Linked DNA regions of Homo sapiens. The protein of the gene in region 1 interacts with the protein of each later gene in a pairwise test. Each region holds a gene or a part of one and is shown on either strand. Other genes may lie near its edges. The genes, in order: RNF214 and LPXN.

The links.
Region 2: the proteins of RNF214 (region 1) and LPXN interact in a two-hybrid assay, tested with the Homo sapiens proteins (one large-scale study listed by BioGRID).

The regions. Positions count from the first base shown.
Region 1 is NC_000011.10:117,239,016-117,242,836, forward strand, and holds part of RNF214 (RING finger protein 214), read left to right. Parts: coding exon 1-96; intron 97-785; coding exon 786-845; intron 846-3,821.
Region 2 is NC_000011.10:58,551,821-58,555,641, forward strand, and holds part of LPXN (leupaxin), read right to left. Parts: intron 3,121-3,821; coding exon 3,021-3,120; intron 1-3,020. UniProt on the Homo sapiens protein: Transcriptional coactivator for androgen receptor (AR) and serum response factor (SRF). Contributes to the regulation of cell adhesion, spreading and cell migration and acts as a negative regulator in integrin-mediated cell adhesion events.

The DNA.
Region 1 (3,821 bases):
GTGTCTCCAGCAAATGGGGTTGAAGGAGTCCGAGTGGATCAGGATGATGATCAAGATAGCTCTTCCCTGAAGCTTTCTCAGAACATTGCTGTACAGGTCAAGTGTCAAGTTTCTACTACTAAAATGTAATTGGGGGGTGGTGGGGTTCAGGGTGGGAGATATTTCTTCATATTTGGTGGAGAACTTGCTGGCTTGTTTTGTTTTTTGTTTTTTTTGCTAGCAACCATCATACTACTCTCATACAGTGCCATACAATGACTTCATTCTGATGTTCAGTAAATAAGAAAGCCAGTAGCCATTGTCTAATCTTATGGCAAGTAGGAACTTTATGACCTACGTGTAGTCTCTTTCACTGAGTAACTGATGAGTGCAGGACATTAGCATTCATATTTATCATCTTTGACCTTGCAGGAAGAATCCTTGTTAATTCTCTGAGTCACATCTTAAGAAGTACAGTGTATCCTGCCTTCTAGTGACGGGTGTGCTTTGTTGTAGGAGAAAGTATGGGCACAACAGACTGTAGAGGGCAGACGTCTCATCTCAGACTTGAGGCTTTCTCTCAGTCAGTCATTGGGTCTTGTTTGGGTTATTTTGTGGGACCGATGATTAATGCAGCGTGGATGTTGGTGTCCGTTTGCCAGAACTACATTGCTTAGCTTGCTTGGAAGCTGGTAAGGGGAAAGAGTAAAAAGTTAGTTACCTGTGGCGGAATTCTAGGTGTTAGTGATTCTGCCTCTTTTAAAGTGTCTCTGAACGATTCTAAATATAACTTTTTTCCTTTATAGACTGACTTTAAGACAGCTGATTCAGAGGTAAACACAGATCAAGATATTGAAAAGAATTTGGTAAGTATTTAAACTGTCCTTGTTATATGAAGCCATTATCAAATAGAAGATCTAGAGGCATATCATCTCAGTTGGAAAAGGTGCAGGAGTCCCTTTCATAAAATTCCTGACAGATGGTCAGGTGACTTTTCCTTGATCACTTCCAAAGATGGGAAGCTTACTACCTCACAAAGCAACCAGTTACGTTTAAAAAAAAAAATAGCTCTTATTGGCCAGGCACAGTGGCTCACACCCATAATCCTAACATTTTGGGAAGCCGAAGTGGGTGGATCGCTTGAGCCCTGGAGTTTGAGACCAGCCTGGGCAACACAGTGAAACACCATGTCTACAAAAAATACAAAAATTAGCCAGGTGTGGTGGTGCATGCCTATAGTCCTAGCTACTCAGGAGTCCTAGCTACTCAGGAGACAGGTGGGAGGATCACCTGTTCACCTGAGCCAAGGAGGTCGAGGCTGTGTGAGCCGTGATTGTGCGATTGTACTGCAGCCTGGGTGACAGAGTGAGACCCTGTCTCAAAAAAAATTAAAAAAAAAAAAAAAAAAAAAGGCCGGGCACAGTGGCTCACGCCTGTAATCCCAGCACTTTGGGAGGCCAAGGCAGGTGGATCACCTGAGGTTGAGAGTTTGAGACCAAGCTGGCCAACGTGGTGAAACCCCATCTCTACTAAAAATACAAAAATTAGCCGGGCGTGGTGGTGTGTGCCTGTAATCCCAGCTACTCGGGAGGCTGAGGCAGGAGAATGGCTTGAACCCAGGAGGCAGAGGTTGCAGTGAGCCAAGATTGCACCACTGCACCCCAGCCTGGACAACAGAGAAGCTCCATCTCAAAAAACAAAAATGAAACCTCTTATTAGATTTTGTTCTGAGATGAAGATAAAAACCTTATAACTTCTTGCTTCAGGCCGGGCGCGGTGACTCACGCCTGTAATCCTAGCACTTTCAGAGGCTGAGGCGGGTGGATCACCTGAGGTCAGGAGTTTGAGACCAGCCTGACTAACATGGTGAAACCTCGTCCCTACTAAAAATACAAAAATTTAGACCAGCCACGGTGGCTCACGTCTGTAATCCTAGCGCTTTGGGAGGCTGAGGCAGGCAGATTGCCTGAGCGCAGGAGTTCGAGACCAGCCTGGGCAACATGGCGAAACCCCATCTCTACTAAAAATACAAAAAATTAGCCAGGTGTGGTGGCGTGTGCCTGTAATCCCAGCTACTTGGGTGGCTGAGGCATGAGATTAGCTTGAACCTGGGAGGCAGAGATTGCAGTGACCCGAGATCGTACCACTGCACTCCAGCCTGGGTGACAGAGTGAGACTCTCTCAAAAACAAACAAACAACAACAAAAAAACAAAAATTAGCCTGTAATCCCAGCTACTTGGGAGGTTGAGGTAGAAGAATTGCTTGAACCCAGGAGGCTGAGGTGGCAGTGAGCTTCTTGCTTTAGGCCGGGCACAGTGGCTCATGCTTGTAATCCTAGCACTTTGGGAGGCCGAGGCGGGTAGATCACGAGGTCAAGAGATTGAGCCCATCCTGGCCAATATGGTGAAACCCCATCTCTACTAAAAATACAAAAATTAGCTGGGTGTGGTGGCGCATGCCTCTAGTCCTAGCTACTCAGGAGGGTGAGGCAGGAGAATTGCTTGAACCCGGGAGGTAGAGGTTGCAGTAAGCTGAGATTGCACCACTGCACTCCAGCCTGGTGACAGAGTGAGAATCTGTCTCAAAAAAAAAAAAAAAAAGTTCTTATTGTAGCTTTCTCTTGAGCTTTATGGAATAAATCCAGTTCCTTTCCTGCTTGTTAGCCATGTGTATATTTGAAGTTTTTTTATGCCTCCTGCTCTTATTCTCTTACTCCCCAAGTTCAAACCTTTCCAGGTGAAACATCCTCAGATGTTTTTAGTATTCTTTTTGATACTATTTTGATACTATTTTCCATTTCTTTATCATCATTCTGGTTACTTTCACTTAGACATGTTCTATTTTATCAATATTTGTTTTAAAAAGTGATCTTGAGAACCATATATAATAGTACAGATACAGTATAATTACTTTATAATACAGTGGGATCTCTCAGTATCTCTCATTCTAGACACTATTTCTTAAGCTTACATTGACTTATTTTGGCAGTTTTTTCATACTGTTAAGCTTTTAGTCAAATTCCATCCAGTCTTTTTTTCATGTATTATTTACTTGTGTCTTTTTAATTTTATCCCCAGATAGTTGGCTTTTGAAGAGAACGTCACACTTACCTTTGTTAAAATGCTCCCTTTGATCCATCCCTGGCCTTTTGTGGCTAAAACTTCCACCTTTAAGTATATGGATATCTAAATGTACACTTTTTAAAGGGAAGGTAATGCTGGGAAAGGCACCCCAGGAAGAGGTCTTTAGGGTAAGATATGTTAATTTATAAAGAGTGGTATAAAAAGGGAAAGTGCTTGTAGCAACCAGATAAGAGAGTGGATATTTGGTGCAAGTTGAAGAAATTGAAGGGCATACGGAAAAAAGTTACTGGTGTACATTAACCAGATGAAGCCAAGAAAAGTTTTAAAATAGAGACTAGCAACTTGGGACTTAATTGTAACAGTCAAGTAGATGAAACAGGAACGAATGGAAACCCAGCAAGTTACTGGGCCAGAAGAGGCCCAGGGTTGAGTTTTGTTTGGCTCTATCTTTTGGGTGGTAGTGAGGTCCACATGCTTTTAAAAAGGCAGTGAGGCCGGGTGCAGTGGCTCACACCTGTAATCTCAGCACTTTGAGAGGCCAAGGCAGGGGTATCACCTGAAGTCAGGAGTTCAAGACCAGCCTGGCCAACATGGCAAAACCCCATCTCTCCTAAAAATACAAAAATTAGCCGAACGTGGTGGCGGGTGCCTGTAATCCCAACTACTCTGGAGGCTGAGGCAGAGAGAATTGCTTGAACTCGGGAGGCGGAGGTTGCCGTAAGCCGAGATTGCACCACTGCACTCTAGCCTGGGCGACA
Region 2 (3,821 bases), about 59 Mb from region 1:
TCTAAGGAAGTAATATTTGAGTAGATACTTGGGACTTAGAAATATTGACATTTATGGGAAAAGCATTCTAGGGGAAGGGAAGGCCCCGAGGAATAAAACAACTTGGCACATTAGAAGAAAAGTCAAAGAGGTCAGTGGGGCTAGAGCAGAGGGAGTGAGATTGAACACGGCAGGAGAAGGTGATGGAGAGAGAGGCAAAGATCACATAGGAACCTCATGGTAAACGCTTGGGTTTTATTCCAAGGTGATGGAAGCCATTGCAGGATTTCAAGCACAGGAGTGAAGGAATCTGGAGGATCCCTGTGGTAGCTGAGTGGAGAACTAAGTGTTGACAAGCAAGAGTGAATACAGGGAGATTTTCAGATAATGACTTAGATCAGTATTACAGGAGAAGGTGGTGAGAAGTGGTCAGATAAGACTTGTTGATGGATTGGAATTATTTAAGCAAAAGCCCAAAATTATTATAAACCATTCAAAGAAGGATCCTCAAATTAAAAGAAAAAAAAAAAAGGCTAACTGACCCTTCATAACCTCATAACCTGATTCTGGCTCTCTCTACTCCTTTCCAGCTGGGCGACTGCTACCATCTATCTACTGAATACTTCACTCATCAGAAAACTACAATGGCTCTCCATTGCCACCACATCAAGTCTTCACTCATCAGACAGACATTCAAAGCCTCCCATCCACTGTCCTCCCTTTTTATCTTTCCCAATTTCATCTTTTATTAATACTATGTTGTAAAAGGACAGCTGGGCTCTTCATCTCCTGAATGTGATCTGTTACTGTCTGCCTTAAGACCTCTACTTATCCTACTTTTACTGCCTGTTATAACATCACACTGTCACCAATCAAAATGCTCATTTTGCTTCGAGACATTTTGATCATCTGACAGACATCCTTCCTTCTCTAATATATGTTAGTTAATATTCAAGAGGTTAGTGTTCAGAAGGTTAGTGTCTGAAAGGTCTGAAAGGGTGACTGACATTAATTATGAAAAATAAGTAAAAATACAATATAACTACATCTACACCTACATCTCTATCTCTTCACTGTTATCTTCCAGAATACTTCTGAACAGATATAGAAGAGACAGGAAATTCTGCCTATCTCCGGTGGGGCAGAACTGGATGGCTAGGGTGCAGAGCTGAGAAGGAAACAGTTCAGTGCAAGCTTTTTGCACTTTTGATTTGTGTACAATGTGAAAGTGCAGCTTATTCAAAAGATAAATGGGGCCGGGCACAGTGGTTCATGCCTGTAATCCTAGTACTTTGAGAGGCCGAGGCAGACAGGTGGCCTGAGCTTAGAAGTTTGAGACCAGTCTGGGCAACATAGCAAAACCTCGTCTCTACTAAAAATACAAAAATTAGCTGGGCATGGTGGCACACGCCTGTAATCACAGCTACTCAGGAGGCTGAGGCACTAGAATCGCTTGAACCCAGGAGGTGGAGGTTGCAGTGAGCCGAGATCATGCCACTGCACTCCAGGCTGGGTAACCGAGTAAGAATCTGTCTCAAAAAAAAAAAAAAAAAAAAAGATGGTGTTGTAAATTAAAAATTTAAATCAACCAATACACAAGCTAAATCAACTAGAAACGCAACACAATTAAATCTAATGTACATTTTTTCTAGTATTTTCAGATATACAGCATAATGAGCCAATCTACCCAGCTTTATTGTAGACACTGGCCCATCAAAGGATGTCAGTCATTAAGGAAAACTTGTTTGTGATGTTTATTTACTCATCTCTCTAATAAATATGTGTTGCTCACGATGTATCAGGCCCTGTGCTGAGCATTGGGAGTCCCAAGGTGAGCTCTAAAGATAAGGTCCCTGCCCTCTCCAATCATATACATTTTTATATACTGCTTTGAAATTATTTCATAGTCATCTCATGAGTATATATCAAATCCTCCAACCAGATTTAAAATGGTTGGATTCTCCACCTTAAGGATTCTGGATTATATTTCCTTTAATAAATCTTTAAGCCCATTTATCTGAGATTTCCATTCCATGCCCGACTATGTGAGCTCACCACTTTAGAGGTGTTCTAGAGGCTAGAACAAAGAGGCAGATTTTATCTCAATATGGGCTTGGGACTTCTCATCCTTCCTACTGTCAGAGCCATACTTTGATCTCCCTTGCTGTGTCTCAGCTTGCTCACTGGTCTCCTCTGTCCTGCTTAGTCAGGTCTCTTTAACAGTCCTTTTGGCCGGGCGCAGTGGCTCACGCCTGTAATCCCAGCACTTTGGGAGGCCGAGGCAGGTGGATCACGAAGTCAGGAGTTCGAGACCAGCCTGGCCAAGATGGTGAAACTCCGTCTCTACTAAAAATACAACAAAAATGAGCCGTGCACAGTGGTGGGCACCTGTAATCCCAGCTACTCGGAAGGCTGAGGCAGGAGGATCGCTTGAACCTGGGAGGCGGAGGTTGCAGTAAGCCAAGATAGCGCTACTACACTCTAGCCTGGGCAACAGAGCAAGACTCCATCTCAAAAACAAACAAACAAACAAACAAACAAATGAAAAATCCTTCCACATCATCAAGCCTTAGATACCTCTGCCCTCAGGACTCATTGCAACTAAAACCACCTTTCTTCCCATCTCTTTATGTCCAAACTCTGCCAGTTCTTCAGAGTCCATCCCAAGTTTCAACTCTGATTAAATCTCCAAAATCTCTCTATATCCGTAATGTTTGCTCCACATATGTTTGCAAAACACCTGGCTTTTATTCTATAAATGTTAAGAAACTTATGCCTCATTTTGCCAAGCACACTCCAGCTCCTTGAGATCAAAGTCTGTATTATATATTAATTTTTGTGTCCAAATAACACATAGTACAAAGATGGGTTAATTCATGGAATTAAATTTAGTCTGAAAAAAGCAATGACAACTTAGGAAAATTCCTAAGTGGGAGAATGGAGAGCTGAGTTCCACAAAGATAAACTGGTGACCCCATGGGCCCTGTTTATCATCTGGACTGCACTCACCTTGGCCTGCACTCACCTTGGCCTGCACTCACCTTGGCCTGCATCTCAGTCAGGTGAGCCATGAGCTCATCCAACTGAGCAGCTGCTGACGTTTTAGAAGGTGGTGGTGATTCCTTTGGCTCTTGGGCTTCACTATAGAGGGAAAACAAAAAAGTCATATGAACAAATCAAAACTCAAATAATGTTAAACCACACATAAAGTACTGGAAATGCAACTGTAATAATGAATCCCCTGGATATGAAGCTAAAATCAGAGATGGGGGTATTTTAAAAATATATTAATATGTACTAGACCAAAAATCTAAACAAGTTCTCTCTGCCTTTTTTCTCTATTTCTCCCTGGTCATCTAATTATAAAAAGTATTATATCTCCTGTCAGTTTTTGTCAAAAAATAAAAATAAACTAGAATATAGAGCAGGCATCAACAAACTAAGGTCCTTGGATCAAATCTGGCCATGTCCATTCATTTATCTACTGTCCATAGCTGCTTTTCTGAACAGTTGGGTAGTTGCTACAAAGACTTTATAGTCCACAAAAGCCTAACAAACTTACTATCTGCCTCTTTACAGAACAAGTTTGCAAATCTCTGGTGCAGAAAGTTTAGATAATATATATGATGATGATTTCATATTCATATAATTGTAAGTAAATTATAAATAAATAAAACTTTGGACCCAATAAACAGAATACAGATTCTATTCAAGTAGCTGCATAAACATTAGTAAAATTAACTATGTATGAAGATACAAAGTAAAGCTCAATAAATTTTTAAAAGTACATCATATAGACCATATTCTTAGATTGGAGTGAATAGAAGTACAAATTAATCATA